Linked DNA regions of Homo sapiens: region 1 is linked to region 2. Evidence: fine-mapped expression QTL. A gene starts in region 2. The other region holds a variant in brackets. All regions are shown on one strand. Distances are between the middles of the regions. Region 1 has its middle 71 kb from the start of SLF2. Region 2 holds the start of MRPL43 (mitochondrial ribosomal protein L43).

Region 1 (8,649 bases), 150 kb before region 2:
AGAGTAGGGAAGTGGGGTCTGAAAGAAGCAGGCTCTGTGCAAACATGGGCTGGCTGAAGCATGGGGTTGTTCAAGGGAGAAGTAATAGTTGGAAATATTGGGTAATAGTTGGAAAGGGAACTTTCCAAAACTGATACTCATATATTTGCTGGAGGTTGAACTGACAAGACTTGGGTACTGACTGGATGAGAGAGATGAGGGCCAGGGAGACCAGTTTGTGAAGGGCAATCAATGCCAGACTGTTTGACCATTTTCCTATCCTTAACTGGGGGGAGGGCACTGACTACTTCTAAGGTGACCTGATGCAAAGTTTTATTTACAAGTTAATTCTAGCTGCCAGACAAGGTGGTTGAAGGGAAAGTTTGAGGCAGGGAGACTATTAGAAGGCTAGTGCAATGATGAGATGGGGGATGAAATGGAGTGAGAGTGAGAGAGAGAGAGAGATGCAGGTTGACCTGTGGAAGGAAGATCTGTGATAAGGAAGTCTCCCTGAGGGACAGAGGGGGACAGGTAAGCTGGGTGGGCTCCATCTCCAAGTGTCTGGCCCAAGAAGGCCTGGTGGTAGCCTCACTGAGGTAGCATATCTGGACTTGGCTGCCAATTGGTTATGAAGGTGAGGAGGAGAGATAGGGCAAAGATGATTGCCTCCAAGGGTGTTCCAAGAGCCTGGCAGCTGATGGGCCACCAGCAGAGGTAAGAAGAGACGCTAACTTGGGGCTAGAGATCATGACATGCCTTTGCATATTGAGTATTTGTGCCTGAGTTTGACATGCCAGGGCATGATGGCCAATAGACAGAATTACAGGGAAGTAGCTCAGGGGAGTAAATTGGCCTCTGGATGTAGAATGGGGAGATATACCCTCCTGCCCCACTCTCCTAGTCTCCAGTTTTGCATTGCAGTTTGGATGGGCCAATTTAATTCTGTAACAAAGTAACAGTATAGTATTAACCCAAAATAATCCTATAATACCATAGCACAGTAAAGATGATGTATCACTGCCAAGATACAAGTGATAGTGTAGTGTAGGGCTGTAACGATGTAATCCAAAAACAGTATAACCATATGGCAATTTGCTACTGTCAGCCAGGAAATGATGGGTCGGTGCACTATAGGTTAACAGTACTGGGCTATAATGAGGTAACCATGTAATCAGTGATATTGTAGTGTTGAAATGACTGTAACAAGGCACACAACCCAGCAACTTGATATGACAATCTGACAGTGTAATTGTGTTAACTTAGTAATGGTTACCGATATAATGATGCAATCACATGATGGCAGAGTGTGGTAATGATGTCACATGATCATAAAACCTCAAAGGCAGTGGAAGGGAAGAGGATGGAGCTCTTAACCTAAGCCCCAGGGCTCTGAGAATAGAGTAAGAAAGCCCTTTCCAAGTTTAAAAGGAAGCTTCCTCAGGATGCTGCAGAGGCTGGAAGAAGCTTCTGGAAGGATGTTGCAGCCTGGGATAGGAAAGAGCTCAGCCGAGAAAGAAAACTGGGGGCTGGGCACAGTGGCTGACGCCTGTAACCCCAGTACTTTGGAAGGCTGAGGCAGGTGGATCACTTGAGATCAGGAGTTCAAGATCAGCCTGGCCAAACATGGTGAAATCCTGTCTCTACTAAAAAATACAAAAATTAGCCAGGTGTGGTGGTGCACGCCTGTAATCCCAGCTACTCAGGAGGCTGAGGCACTAGAATCACTTAACTCAGGAGGCGGAGGTTACAGTAAGCCGAGTTCGTGCCATTGCACTCTAGCCTAGGTGACAGAGTGAGTGAGACTCTAAAAACAAAAAAAAAGGAAGGAAGGAAGGAAGGAAGGAAGGAAGGAAGGGAGGGAGGGAGGGAGGGAGGGAGGGAGGAAGGGAAGGAAGGAAGGAGAAAGGAAAGGAAAGGGAAGGGAAGGGGAAAAGAAAAGAAGGAAGGCAAGAAGTGGTGGTGGCTTTGCAGAACAGGACATAGCTCTGTTAGGCTGGCCAGGATCAAAGCAAGCCAGCCCCCAACTGTGGATACTATCTGAGCAGCCCTGACCCCTTTCAGTGCTCTTGACTGTTCACTTAGCCTGAGAGGTGTCTGCTCCTTCAGGAGCTGAAATAGGGCAAATCATATTCAGTACTTGTAAGATTCTTGGAATCATCACATTGACAAGAATATAAAAGAAAACCCAGAGTAACACAATTGAAAACAACTCACATATCTGATCTTTACTATGTGCTGGGCACTGTTCTTCTGCAGATTATTCACCATAACCCAAGGAAGAAGGTTTTATCTTATTCGTTTTACAGATGAAGACAATGAGACCCAGAGAGATTAAACATATTTGTCTAAAGTCACATAGCAAGTAAAGGGCAGAGCTGGAATTCAGACTCAGATCCACATCTGCCTTTAAAGCACATTCTTGCTCTTGTCATTGGGTATCTGCTTTTAGAAGTGTGTGACAAACCAGTGAGAAAAAAACCAGGGAGCAGGTTGAGCCAAAGGATAAACAAGTGACATATTCCTAGACATACATTTTTTAAAAGGTCAATATTAAGGTGGATTAAAATGTGTGTAATGGGCAAGTGTTTAAGAAAGAAAGGATGGATATGAATATATATTCTTATTTGCTTACATTTCTTGAAATGAAAAGATAAACAAAATATTTTAAAAATAATTATTGGAGAAAGGAGGAAACAAAGTGAAGAGGATGGGGTAGAAGGTAGACATCACTGAGTATAAATTTTCAATAGATTTTTAAAAATAGATTAAAACCATATAGATACTTTATATAATAACACAATAAAATCAAGTATGTAAATAAGTAATCCATAAAAAATCAAAAGCAAAATGAAACAAATGAACTTATCTACTAAGTTGGTATTATAATCACATAGATAAACTATTTCAAGTAATTTAAAATCCAGTAATTGACTCTACATACATCCCTAGTGGGATATACACTAATAAAGCCAATAAGTAATGAGATTGATGTTCTTAGAGTTTTTTGGTAAGGGAGAAATAAACAAACAAAAACAGATGGAAGATCAGTGGTGATTAGTAAAATCCCCATAGTCTTGCATTTGATTTGGAAGTATCAGTAATAACTGTTGATGTATTTTATCTTTAAAAAATGTATTTCATGGCTTTATGCATTGAAAAAGACAAGAAACCAACCAACTCAGTAGCAATAAGCACCTCTAGTCTCCAGACTGTGGTCTTTAAATACCATTTTGCATTAAAAAGAACCAGGGCTCTTTGGGGGAAATGAAAAATTTCAGATCTGAAACAGGACATGTACAAGATCATTCTGGAAATCTTATACCAGAAAGCGAGGAAGCTATGAAAGACTACTAGGGTCATTTCAAAAGGACTTGTGCACTAATTACAGGCTCCCATTTGCCAAAGATGATACAATTGAGCATCAGTGTTTATAATAACTGCAATTGATTGAAACTCATCTAATAAATTTAAATCCATGAATAATCATTATACTTAAAAGAAAAACCTTACTAATCTTCTTTGAAGGATGGTAGAGAGCCAACTCATAATTTGGTAAACTGATCGAAAAAAAAAACCAAGCATTTCTACTGCCTTTCTTATATGAGCTATATATACCTTGGGTTGAATCCAGGAGGCCGAGGTTGCAGTGAGCCAAGATCACGCCACTGTACTCCAGCCTGGGCAACAGGGAGAGACTCTATCTTAAATAAATAAATAAATAAATAAATAAATAAATAAATAAATAAAGTGATATTTCAAAAAAAATCTAATCTAAATCTAATCAAGCCTATAGATGTAACTACTATCTTGCAGAAAATACTGTGAGCAGAGGAACCTCAAGGATGCAATCCAAAAACTCCAGGTTATGGGTAAATATCCTGGCTTCCTCAATTAAAAAATTGAAAGAGAGAAAAAAATGGATAGACTAAAACAGACTTGAGAGATATATCAACTAATTGCATTATATTTGAATCTTGCAAGTAATTAAAAGGAGGAGAAGGAGCAGGAAGAGGAGGAAGAGAAAGAAGAGTAGAAGATGTTATGAGGCAATCAGGGACATGTAAGCACTGCATTAACTGGACACTATTAAGTTTTTAGATGTGCTAGTGATATTATGGTTATTTTAAAGTCATTTACTTTAAAAATATAAACTGAAATATTTATAAATTAAATGATGTGATATCTTGGATTTGCTATCAAATAATCTAGGGGGTAGAGTTGGCTGAGGAATATATAGAATAAGACTGGCCATAAATTGATAACCGTTGGAGCTGGGTTCATTATACTCCTCTCTACTTTTATATATGTTTGAAGTTTTCAATGTTTAACCCATGTTATATTGAAATGAGCTGGTTAAATTTGGGGAGTAGCTATCTCCCCCATCTTGAACTTCAGAAAGCTGGCAGCTGTCTTCCATTGTTCAGCCCTCCAAGCTGGAAACTGAACAAACTGACCAGCCCCCCAAAAAAGACCTCTAAATACTGACAATCAGAGTCCCCCCACAAAACATCCGGGTCTCCAACTGATCATTCTTCAGTGATGTCCACTAATCAACAGGTCCTAAAATTAGCACAGAGCTTTCAAGCGGTCATTTAGTGCCCTACCT[T/C]TGTGTATTGATGGACAGGAAAAGATGCTAATGATTTAGGACAAGTTTCTAACATAAAAGATAAAGACCAGGCCGGGCACAGTGGCTCACGCCCCTAATCCCAGCACTTTGGGAGGCCAAGGTGGGTGGATGACCTGAGGTCAGGAGTTCGAGACCAGCCTGGCCATCTTGGTGAAACTCCGTCTCTACTAAAAATACAAAAATTAGCCAGGCGTGGTGGCAGGTGACTGTAATTCCAGCTACTCAGGAGGCTGAGGCAGAAGAATTGCTTGAACCCAGGAGGCGGAGCTTGCATTGAGCTGAGATTGAGCTACTGCACTCCAGCCTGGGTAACAGAGCAAGACTCCATCTCAAAAAAAAATTTACACACTTATATACATAAATGTGATATATTGATTGATTTTTACCCCAAATTGTGATATAAATATATTGGGCCAAAGACAAAATGATTATAGGTGGTGACATAAGAGATCCCAATCCTCATCTTCTATAATAATTAGTTAATAGCTGGGCATGGTGATACATGCCTGTAATCCCAGCTACTCAGGAGGCTGAGGCATGAGAATCACTTGAACTCAGGAGGTGGAGGTTGCCGTGAGCCGAGATTGCACCACTGCACTACAGCCTGGATGACAGAAACTCCATCTCAAGAAAAAAAAAGAACTTGAAAGTATCAAAGAATATTCAGAGAAGAGAAGAAAGCTTAAAAAAACAAACAAACCTGCAATTAATAACCTCAGAGAGGTATAAGAAACACATCCATGAAAAAAAGACAGGGTGTGGTTTGTTTTGTTTTGTTTTTTTCTGAGACAGAGTCTCGCTCTGTTGCCCGGGCTGGAGTGCAGTAGTGTGATCTCAACTCACTGCAGCCTCTGCCTCCCGGGTTTAAGCAATTCTCCTGCCTCAGCCTCCCGAGTAGCTGGGACTACAGGCGCGTGCCACCATGCCCGGCTAATTTTTTGTGTTTTTAGTAGAGACGGGGTTTCACCGTGTTGGCCAGGCTGGTCTCAATCTCCTTACCTCGTGATCCACCTGCCTCGGCCTCCCAGAGTGCTGGGATTACAGGTGTGAGCAACCTCACCTGGCCAGGGTGTGTTTTTAAGGTATATTCAGAGAATAATAATTGTTAAAATTCCTGAATATTTATAGATATATGTACACATAATACATATGATATCTATAATATTAGAGATAAAGTGAAAAGTCAAAAATAGCAATATAAGCATGATATGGCCACAGAAGTAGGGAAGTACATATCAGAAGATGTAACTAATCATTTTCAAAAAGGTTGCCTATAGGGACTTAATAGAAGACAACTATAACCTTGTATTTGGTTGCTTTTTGAGCTATGTAAATACAGTTGACCCTTGAACAACATAGGTTTGAACTGCATGGATCCATTTATATGCAGAATTTTTCCAAAAAAGTTACACTGAATGTGCTTGCCTTTCCTGCCTCCTGTTCTGCGTCCTCCACATCTTTGACCTCTGCCACCCCGAGACAGCAAGACCAACCCCTTTCCTCCCTCCTTCTCCTCAGCCTACTCAGTGTGAAGGCAACGAGGATGAAGACTTTTATGACGGTCCACTTCCACTTATTGAATAGTAAGTATATTTTCTCTTCCTCATGATTTTCTTAATAGCATTTTCTTTTTTCTAGCTTACTTTATTGTAAGAATACAGTATATAATACATATAACACACAGAATATGTGTTAATCGACAGTTTGTTATTGGTAAGCCTTCTGGGCAACAGTAGGCTATTCGTAGTTAAGTTTTGGGAGAGTCAAAAGTTATACATAGATTTTTTTTTTTAATTATTTATGTCCATAGATTTTGGGGGAACAGGTGCTATTTGGTTACATGAGTAAGTTTCTTTAGTGGTGATTTGTGAGATTTTGGTGCACCCATCACTCGAGCAGTGTACACTGAACCCAATGTGTAGTCTTTTACCCCTCACCCCTTCTCACCCTTTGCCCCTGAGTCCCCAAAGTCCACTGTATAATTCTTATGCGTTTGCATCCTCATAGCTTAGCTCCCACCTATGAGTGAGAACATACAACGTTTGGTTTTCCATTCCTGAGTTACTCACTTAGAATAATAGTCTCCAATCCCATCCAGGTTGCTGCAAATGCTGTTAATTCATTTCTTTTTATGGCTGAGCAGTATTCCGTCATATATGTACCACAGTTTCTTTATCCATTCGTTGATTGGTGGGCATTTGAGTTGGTTCCACATTTTTGCAATTGTGAATTGTGCTGCTATAAACATGTGTGTGCAAGTACCTTTTTCAACAATGACTTCTTTTCCTCTGGGTAGATACCCAGTTGTGGGATTTCTGAGTCAAATGGTAGTTCTACTTTTAGTTCTTTAAGGAATCTCCACACTGTTTTCCATAGTGGTTGTACTAGTTTACGTTCCCACCAACAGTGTAGAAGTGTTCCCTTTTCACCTTATCCATGCCAACATCTATTTTTTAAATTTTTTTTATTATGGCCATTCTTGTGGAAGTAAGGTGGTATCATATAGTGGTTTTGATTTGCATTTCCTTGATCATTAGTGATGTTGAGCATTTTTTTCATGTTTTTTGGCCATTTGAAAAGTTACACATGGATTTTCAACTACATCATGGGTCCGCACTCCAGCCCCTGCAGTGTTCAATGGTCAACTGTATATAACTTTTTTTTTTTTGAGGCAGGGTCACAATCATGGCTCACTGAAGCCTTAACCTCATGGGTTCAAGTGTTCTTCTTGCCTCATCCTCCCAAGTAGCTGGGACTACAGCGACACACCACCACGCCTGGCTAAGTTTTTGATTTTTTGTAGAGATGAGGTCTTGCTATATTGCCCAGGCTGGTCTCAAACTCTTGGGCTCAACCCATCCTCCCGCCTCAGCCTCCCAAAGTACTGGGATTACAGGTGTGAGCTACCACTCGCAGCCAACTATATTTAACTTTTATTTATTTATTTTTATTTTATTTTTATTTTTTATATATTTTTTTTGGAGACAGAGTTTCACTCTGTTATCCAGGCTGGAGTGCAGTGCTGCCATCTTGGCTCACTGCAACCCACCTTCCAGGTTCAAGAGATTCTCCTGCCTCAGCCTCCTGAGTAGCTGGGTACAGGAGCCCGCCACAATGCCTGGCTAATTTTTTTTGTATTTTTAGTAGAGACAGGGTTTCGCCATGTTAGCCAGGCTGGTCTCAAACTCCTGACCTCAGGTGATCTGACCTCGGCCTCCCAAAGTGCTGGGATTACAGGCATGAGCCACCACGCCTGGCCTATATTTAACTTTTAATGAAAAATTCAAACATACACAAAAGTGAGAAAATAGTACAATGAACTCTCATATTCTAATCCCTCAGAATTAGCAATTTATCAAAATTTTGCCACACTTGCTTCATGTAAGTACATTACTTTAAATTTTTTAGAAAATTTTTTAAAATTTTAGAAATATACACAATAAATTAATAATATGGCTACCTCTGAAACATATGACTGATATAGAGATGGGAGAGGTGAGGAAAAGAGCTTTTTTCCTTTTTAAACAGTTTTATTTTTATTTTTATCTTACAAACTTATGCCATGCGCTGCTCTAAACACTTTACACTCATTTAATCCTCATAGCAAATCGATGAAGTGTGTGCTAGTTTTATTCTTATTTGATAGAAGAGAGCTGTTTATCATTTGAATTTTTTTCAGTGAGCAGATATTCCTTTTTAAATATTTATTTATGTGTTTGTTTTAGAGACAGGGTCTCCGTCTGTTGCCCAAGATTCACTGTAACCTCAAACTCCTGTGTTTAAGGGATTCTCCCACTTTAGTCTCCCAAGTAGCTGGGACTACAGGCAGGGGCCACCATGCCTGGCCAATTTTAATTTTTTTTTTTTTTTAGAGATGGGGGTCTCACTATGTTGCCCAGGTTGGTATTGAACTCCTCTCTTCAAGTGATCCTCCAGTCTTGACCTGTAAATAATAATTTTTTAAAAGATAATGGACTATAAAAACAAGTTTCCTGACTCATATATAATACATAATAACTCTTTGGTTATTTCTTCTCCAGTAT
Region 2 (8,649 bases):
ACGGAAATACTCACTGGGTCGGGCCAGCCGGGCAGGAGGATCTGCGGTGCAACTGCAGACAGTCTCAGGCCAGTGTCCTGGAGAGGAAGATGAGGGTGATGATGAGGGGGCTGGGGGCCTGGAGGGCAGCTGTCTCCAGATCATCCCTGGGGAGGGAGCCCCAGCCCCACCACCCCCACCGCCCCCACCGCCACCGGCTGAGCTGACCAATGGCTTGGTGGCACTGCCCAGCCGGCTGCGGAGGATGAATGGCAATAGCTATGTGCTTCTGAGGCAGAGCAACAATGGAGTACCAGCAGGGCCCTGCTCCTTCGCCGAGGAACTCAGCCGCATCCTGGAAAAAAGGAAGCACACGCAGCTCGTGGAGCAGCTAGATGAGAGCTCTGTCTGAGCCCAGCCTCCCAGAACAAATGCTCTTCCAAGCCAGCCTATCTGTCCCAGGCTGGGCCACTGCCTCCCTAACACAGCCACCCTCCCTTCATTACCCCCACTCCATACCCTTCTCCCAACTTTTTGATGTCCCTGTAGGGCTGGCCAGTCAGGCCCAGCCAAAGCCCCCTCCTCAGTCTCCACAGACCCACATGTGAGCAGCCCAGGCCCATCGGTGCTCCTCAGAGGTAGGTGCTCCCTCAGGATCAGGTGCCCTGCAGACCCAGAGCCAGTTCCTATCCCCTAACCTAAACACTTATAGGTGAGGACTCCATCCTCCTGTTCCATTCATCTGCCCAAACCCTTTCTCTTTCTCCCAGGCAGGGCTCTGCAGGTCCATATGGGCTCAATGTCACCACCCTCTGCATGGCCCTGTGTGCTGGATGGTCCTGAAACCAGACAAGACCTCTGCCAGCCACCTAAGCCCTGCGTACATTCACATGCACACATGGAAGAATGTTTATCGGCTGGGCTGCAGTGCCCCCACCCTCACCTTCTCCTGGTGCATTCTTGTTTCATCCCTGCTTCTGGACTTGGGGTACCCTCCCAATTGCCACATCCTATCTGGTCCTCTTCCCCAGCCCCATGTGGTGACCTCTTTGTCAAGAGCTTGGGAACGGGCCAGCCTGGGGAGGTAAGACTGCATCACTCCCCTCCTCTCCCTTCCTGTGTGGCCCTTGTGAATCAGCCTCCCCACTCTCCTTGGTCATTCTCAAGAGTATGAGAGACAGAGCTCCAGGCATGTCCCATCCCCATGCACATGTGGTAACACACACCTGTATCACACATGTGCTTACATTTCCACTCACATGCACCTCTGAGCCTCCCTTGCTGTCTTGGACCTGTCTGTTGGGTTTAGTCCGTGGACATTTCAGAGGGAGATCCCCCTCCCATTTAACTGTCCTCACAGGCCCTTGCCTAGGATGGATGACCAACACTGCACTCAATGAGCCAGCCTCTCTTTTGGGGGAATCAAGCATTTGCTTCCTCTAGACTACAGCAGGGAAAGGGAGGAGAAATCTGATGTCTCAACTGGCACATGAAGCCCATTCTTGGAACTATGCAAAGGGCAGAGGCTGGGAGTTTGGACGCTTAGCTCCTACCCCTGTCCTACCTCACCGGGGCACTTTCAGGGGCCAGGGGCCTCTGAAGTCTCTAGGCCTATATGGGACAATCAATTCTGACTGAGCTCCCCCATTCCCCTCGGGTGAGGATGACTGTTATTTTTGTAGCTGAGAACGTGGAATCCCACGGGTTTTTACTGCCCTTCACCCAACCTCTCCCACCTCCACCCCACAATGAATGTATTTATTGTGAGAATGGCTACACTTCTTTAGGAATGCCCCCACTTACAACCAGGTGGGTGGAACAGGCATGTGACAGAGTGGGGAGCCTGGGCTCAGCTCCTCCCCCTGCCGTTGGTTAATAAACACCCTTTTTCCCCACAGCTATGACTAGTCTGCTTCATCTAGATGCGCCCACCCCTGATCACCAGGGGACAGGCTCCTGAGCCTATACAGAAGGTGATATCTGCCTCCAGGATTGGCTCTGCTCCCCAATACAACTATTTGCAGAGGAAATTGGGATCCTCCGCTTCCATCCTGACTCCTTGGCAGGCACACAGGCCTCTTTAGTAAGGTTCACACTATTCATTGATCATGGTGTTAGGGCATGACAAGAAAATGACAACAGTTCAAGAATTCTTACAGGGGTTTCTAGATTTTCATTTCCTGCCTCTCATTTCCCCACCATCCCCCCTTTTTAAACTAAGATTAGAAAATACTCATTAATATCAGCCTTCCTGCCCTTCCCCAAGGTTCTCAGCACCCCCCACCAGCTGGCTCAAGGGACATGGATTTTATTTCTGCACAAAGAGGGACGTGGGGGGAAGGAGATGTATAGCTAAGACCAGAGAAAGCTTGTCAGCCAGGACTTGGTCTGAGAATCACTCCCCTCTCCCTTTCAGGGGTCAGGCCTAGATTAATCACTTGGCCTTTGATACTAACCACCTGACAGTTGTTATATGTTCTGCGTCTAGTTTTAAAATAATGAAAACTGAGGCTTGTGCTTAACATATGCACACATTTTGAAGACAGACCTGAAATGTGACCTTGGATAAGTTTATTAACCTGTTTTATAAATCTGTATTCACACAGATATAAAGTGCCTAGCCCATCACAGCAGAGCTCTCCGTAGCTCAGTGGTTGTTCCAATAAGACATCAGGGATTCTTCAGAAGCCAGCCTTCAGACCTCTCACTGTGTTTTGAGATCATTATTATCAATTTGGATTTAAAAAACAAGGGCCCTGTAAAACCCTTGAAGTCTTCCTCATCTCAGGTTTTAGGGATGCCACTTGCATAAAAATGAGTGGTTCACAAGGTCACTGCCCCCAGAAGCAGGCACTGGAAAGAAACAGGCAGCTCTTCATTATCCCAAGCAGAACCTCTGTCAACTTGCCCATTGATGGGTTCCATTTGCCTGGGCTTGGAATCCCAAAGGGGAAGAACCACCTTTACCGGAGTAACAGTCCAAAGCCTGGGGCTGCAGTTGGTGGGGCAACTCTTCACTGTGCTTGCACCTGGGCTGGGGCAGGATCCTGAACCTCTCGGGGGCGTAGCCCGCGGAACGTGGTCGGCTTGTTGGTGAAGGGGTGCCACTGGCCCTGGATGCTAGGGTTGTCGGTGTGGAAGGGCTTGCGGATGCGGATCACGTCCAAGCCCGACTGGTCGGCCAGCTTCTGCACCAGCGTCGAGATCTCCTCGACCGACTTGCAGTGGATGCTCTCCTCGCGCACAGCCCCGTTAACTGGCAGAAGAGGGGTGAGAGTGGGTGGAAGCTGGCCGGTGCGACCAAGCGAGAAGGAGGATAGCGGGTCGAGCCCCTGATCCCGCCCTCCAGCCCGAGCCCGGCCCCACTCACGGTATTCGGCCACTACTCTGGGCACGCAGCACGGACGCGAGTTTACATATATTACGACCCCTGGATTCCGTCGGGCGAAGTCGATCACCTCCCGCTCCACGAACTCCCTAAGCGACCCGGGACAGTGAGCAGTATGACCCCTGACTGGGGGCGACCTACCCGGGGAGTCGTTGCCACCTCCACACCCACCCCGACCCGCGCCTGCGCACTTCCCTTGGCTCACCTGGCGCCGCGAGACGAGGCGCCGTCGCGGCTGACGCTGAAGCTCAGACGCTGCAGCTGCTGCACATAGCGACCCAGTCCGTTGTGGAGAACGCTGGCCAAGAAGCGGCTCGGAGTCCCGCGCGCCGTCATAGCTACAGCTTGGAGGCCGCGGAGCCTAAGCAGCGAGGAGAGGGGGGCGGGACTAAACCTCGAGGCTTCCGGTTCCGGGACGACCGCTCCCGGAGTTTTGCTTCCGAGGTCAAGGCGAGTAGCATGTGCGGGAGACTCACGTTGCCGGCGAAGTGGGAGAGAGAAAAGTGGTAACCTGGGGCTGGGGGCCGGCGCGGCGGAGCTCGGAGTAGTAGAGCGGAGTGAAGACACGGGGGAGGATAGAGACTGGCATTCCTTTGGGCCGGGGGATTGGCGGGAGTCGTGCTGGGTGCTCTCGCCGTGTTGAGGTCCCAGTGAGGGGAAGGAGAAGCGGAAGAGGGTCTCTAGTCGGGGCCTAGGGCAAAGGGACTACAAAAAGGATGCAGATGACTATAGAAATGAGGACGACGAGGAGATGCTGTGGAGGAGCAGTAGAGGTGAGAAGATGATGCAAAGAAACTGTGTCAGTGAGGAACTGTATAGAGGGTCATAGAGGTGAGGTGGCGGAGAGAAACTAACTAACGGACCATAGAGGTGGGGGAGCCATTGTAGAAGGACGTGGACGCGAAAGGGTCGTGTAGATGGGCATATGTGTGAAGCAGCAACGTAGAGGGGCTGAAGAGGAGAAATTCATGGAGAGAAAGAATGCACCTAGAGTGAGCTCTGCAGAGTGCTGCGTGGGATATCCCTAGAGTTTGGTCTAGTGAAGGCACGCTAACCAGGCACCTAAGGCATTTCAAGTAGTGACTTCCCACATTTGGCTAGGAATGTGGGTCCTCCTCCGAAGTGGGTACCCCCTCCGTATCTTGTTACCCCTGCGTGGGGAGTGGATGGGTCGGAGGGGCCTGCCCCGAAACTTGGCCCCAGGCCCTCCTCGCAGACGTTACAGGAAGGAGACTCTCCAAGCCTTGGATATGCCAGTGTTGCCTGTAACTGCAACTGAAATCCGCCAGTATTTGCGGGGGCATGGGATCCCCTTCCAGGATGGTCACAGTTGCCTGCGGGCACTGAGCCCCTTTGCAGAGTCTTCACAGCTCAAAGGCCAGACTGGTGTTACCACTTCCTTCAGCCTCTTCATTGACAAGACCACAGGCCACTTTCTCTGCATGACCAGCCTAGCAGAAGGGAGCTGGGAAGACTTCCAGGCCAGCGTGGAGGGGCGAGGGGATGGGGCCAGGGAGGGGTTTCTGCTTAGCAAGGCACCAGAATTTGAGGACAGCGAGGAGGTCCGGAGGATCTGGAACCGAGCAATACCTCTCTGGGAGCTGCCTGATCAGGAGGAGGTTCAGCTGGCTGATACAATGTTTGGCCTTACCAAGGTTACAGATGACACACTCAAGCGTTTCAGTGTGCGATATCTGCGACCTGCTCGCAGTCTTGTCTTCCCTTGGTTCTCCCCTGGGGGCTCAGGATTACGAGGCCTGAAGCTCCTAGAGGCTAAATGCCAGGGGGATGGAGTGAGCTACGAGGAAACCACTATTCCCCGACCCAGCGCCTACCACAATCTGTTTGGATTACCACTGATTAGTCGTCGAGATGCTGAGGTGGTACTGACGAGTCGTGAGCTTGACAGCCTGGCCTTGAACCAGTCCACGGGGCTGCCTACCCTTACTCTACCCCGAGGAACGACCTGCTTACCCCCTGCCTTACTCCCTTACCTGGAACAGTTCCGGCGGATTGTATTCTGGTTGGGGGATGACCTTCGGTCCTGGGAAGCCGCCAAGTTGTTTGCACGAAAACTGAACCCCAAACGATGCTTCTTGGTGCGACCAGGAGACCAGCAACCCCGTCCCCTGGAGGCCCTGAACGGAGGCTTCAATCTTTCTCGTATTCTTCGTACCGCCCTGCCTGCCTGGCACAAGTCCATCGTATCTTTCCGGCAGCTTCGGGAGGAGGTGCTAGGAGAACTGTCAAATGTGGAGCAAGCAGCTGGCCTCCGCTGGAGCCGCTTTCCAGACCTCAATCGTATCTTGAAGGGACATCGAAAGGGCGAGCTGACGGTCTTCACAGGTAACCCTTTGAGAAATCACTACTTAGAGTAAAGGGGCAGAAGATCAGGTGACAAAAGCAAGTGGGTTTGGGCCATGACAATGTTGAAAAGAAGGTTGGCCCTTTCCCCCCAGTTTTAAAGCCCTGACCTATGTCTTGGTTTCAAGGGTAGGACTTCCTCCTCACCCAGGTCTGTTCCACCCCACTGCAGGGCCAACAGGCAGTGGAAAGACGACATTCATCAGTGAGTATGCCCTGGATTTGTGTTCCCAGGGGGTGAACACACTGTGGGGTAGCTTCGAGATCAGCAATGTGAGACTAGCCCGGGTCATGCTGACACAGTTTGCCGAGGGGCGGCTGGAAGATCAACTGGACAAATATGATCACTGGGCTGACCGCTTTGAGGACCTGCCCCTCTATTTCATGACTTTCCATGGACAGCAAAGCATCAGGTGAGACTCCCAGATTCCAGCCACCTTGCTTTCCCAGACATATCCCAGCACTCAGGAACCTTTGGTTCCTTTTCCAGCTCCAGTAGGAACTCCCCCATCTCCTTAGGTTTGGAGTTTTTCAAAGAATGAGAGGGCAGGGCTGGACACACTGGCTCACGCCTGTAATCCCAGCACTTTGGGAGGCTGAGGTGGGAGGATCACTTGAGCCCAGGGATTTGAGACCAACCTGGGCAATATAGGGAGACCACCCCTCTCTATAAAAAAATTTTTAAAAATTAGGCTGGGCATGGTGATGGCATATGCCTGTGGTCCCAGCTACTCAAGAAGCTAAAGTAAGAGGATCGCTTGAGCCTAGTAGGTTGGGGCTGCAGTGAGCTGTGATCACACCACTGCACTCCAGCCTGGGCTACAGAGCAAGACCTTGTCTCAAATAATAGTAATAATAATAGAAGGGCAGAGGAGGCAGCCAAGAGAGTTTTCAGGATGCTAGTTCTTCTGCCTGGGGTGGTCTAGAGACAACTTGTCAAATTCCTTGCCTTTCCTCTTCCCAGGACTGTAATAGATACAATGCAACATGCAGTCTACGTCTATGACATTTGTCATGTGATCATCGACAACCTGCAGTTCATGATGGGTCACGAGCAGCTGTCCACAGACAGGTGACGGTGACATCCTCTCTTGTCTAGCTTGAGCCCGCTTGGACATACAACACACACTTCTCAGGCAGCTGGCCTCTAGGCACACATGCTGTGCTCTCCTATTTTCTGAGATGTGTGCAGGCACGTACCACCCCCATGTGTATCATATGGAGGTGTGGGGTATGGCAGCAGGATGTATGGACAGGGATCTGAGTGTGAGTCCTTGGGTAGAGGGAGGTAGAGTGGGTTGTGGTAGTTTGTGGGGAGATGTGAATGGATCAAGAGTATGTGTATGTTCTTGTCCTTCTGTGTCTGATAAGCTCTTTGTGTTGTTGGGATGGCGTAGGATCGCAGCTCAAGACTACATCATCGGGGTCTTTCGGAAGTTTGCAACAGACAATAACTGCCATGTGACACTGGTCATTCACCCCCGGAAAGAGGATGATGACAAGGAACTGCAGACAGCGTCCATTTTTGGCTCAGCCAAAGTGAGTGGCCTTTAGCGGAGCTCAAGCTTTGGAAAATAGAGTGGGTAGGTGTGACCAGGGACAGCCCTCATTCAGCCTTAATCGTCTTGACTGTCCATCCGAACAGGCAGGAGGCAATGCCTCTGGGGCCATGACATGAGGAATATATGTGCTGGAAATACAAAGGCTGATAGTTGGTTCTTATGCTCTTCTTGTCCCCCAGGAGCTCACATCCTCTCCTGGGGAAACAGTAAGACAGTGATTGCAATTCAGTATGATAAGAGTATGATAGGCAGCACAAGTATTTGGAGAGCAAAGAGAAAAGATGTCTGAGTCAGCCCGGGACATCTGGGAGACTTCCAGAGGAGGTGACAACAAAGGTTGGGTTGAGGTTTGGTAGACAATGGGTATTAGACAATCAGATAAATGTGAGGGCCTTCTGGGCATCAGGACCAGCCCAATCCTGGAGCTTCTAGTGTTACACTGAATGCCTATTACATACGAGGCCTGGGCTGGGCCTAGGGAATTCAGAGCAAGGAGCACAAATCATGTGCCATGATGGAACAAACATGGAGCTGGGAAAGAGAGTAATGCAGAAGTGGAAAAATGGCAGGGTACAGTGGATCACACCTGTAATCTCAACACTTTGGGAGGCTGAGGCAGGAGGATTGCTGGGGCCCAGGAGTTTGGCAATCTGAGCAATGTAGTGAGACCCTGTCTCTACAAAAATATTTGAAAATTGGCCAGGCGTGGTGGCTCACGCTTATAATCCCAGCACTTTGGGAGGCCAAGGCGGGTGGATCACGAGGTCAGGAGATCGAGACTATCTTGCTAACATGGTGAAACCCTGTCTCTACTAAAAATACAAAAAAAAAAAAAAATTAGCCGGGCGTGGTGGCAGGCACCTGTAGTCCCAGCTACTTGGGAGGCTGAGGCAGAATGGCGTGAACCCGGGAGGCGGAGCTTGCAGTGAGCGGAGATCGCGCCACTGCACTCCATCCTGGGTGACAGAGTGAGACTCCGTCTCAAAAAATATATATATATAATATATATATATTTAAAAATTAGCTGGGCATGGTAGCATGCACCTTTGGTCCCAGCTACTCAGGAGGCTGAGGTGGGAGGATTGCTTGAGCCTGGGAGGTTGAGACTGCAGTGAGCCGTGCTCACACCACTGCACTCCACTCCAACCTGGGCAGCAGAGTGAGACCCTATCTTTTTTTTTTTTTTTTTTTTTTTTTTGAGACGGAGTCTCGCTTTGTCACCCAGGCTGGAGTGCAGTGGCGCGATCTCGGCTCACTGCAAGCTCCACCTCCCAGGTTCAAGTGATTCTCCTGCCTCAGCCTCCCAAGTAGCTGGGACTACAGGCATGTGCCACCACACCCGCCTAATTTTTTGTA

Evidence for each region. PIP is the estimated chance that this variant, and not a neighbour inherited with it, causes the effect.
Region 1: its variant is the best candidate, but not a certain one, in a credible set for the expression of MRPL43 in T cells (TOPMed, PIP 0.56).

What each region holds. Positions count from the first base shown.
Region 1 is chr10:100,838,002-100,846,650 of GRCh38, forward strand. No RefSeq gene overlaps it. Among named protein-coding and RNA genes, the nearest start is that of SLF2, 71 kb to the right of the region's middle. The variant T/C (reference allele first, on the strand shown) is at 4,586.
Region 2 is chr10:100,983,741-100,992,389 of GRCh38, forward strand. MRPL43 (mitochondrial ribosomal protein L43) reads right to left here and starts at 3,757. Exons shown (of 3, transcript NM_032112.3): 1 at 3,573-3,757; 2 at 3,350-3,456; 3 at 2,529-3,235. The coding sequence starts at 3,703. The coding sequence ends at 2,994. It overlaps SEMA4G (semaphorin 4G), which reads left to right. Exons shown (of 15, transcript NM_017893.4): 15 at 1-1,876. The coding sequence ends at 391. TWNK (twinkle mtDNA helicase) reads left to right here and starts at 3,803. Exons shown (of 5, transcript NM_021830.5): 1 at 3,803-5,713; 2 at 5,904-6,144; 3 at 6,696-6,803; 4 at 7,129-7,270. The coding sequence starts at 4,471. RefSeq lists an enhancer at 3,516-3,585.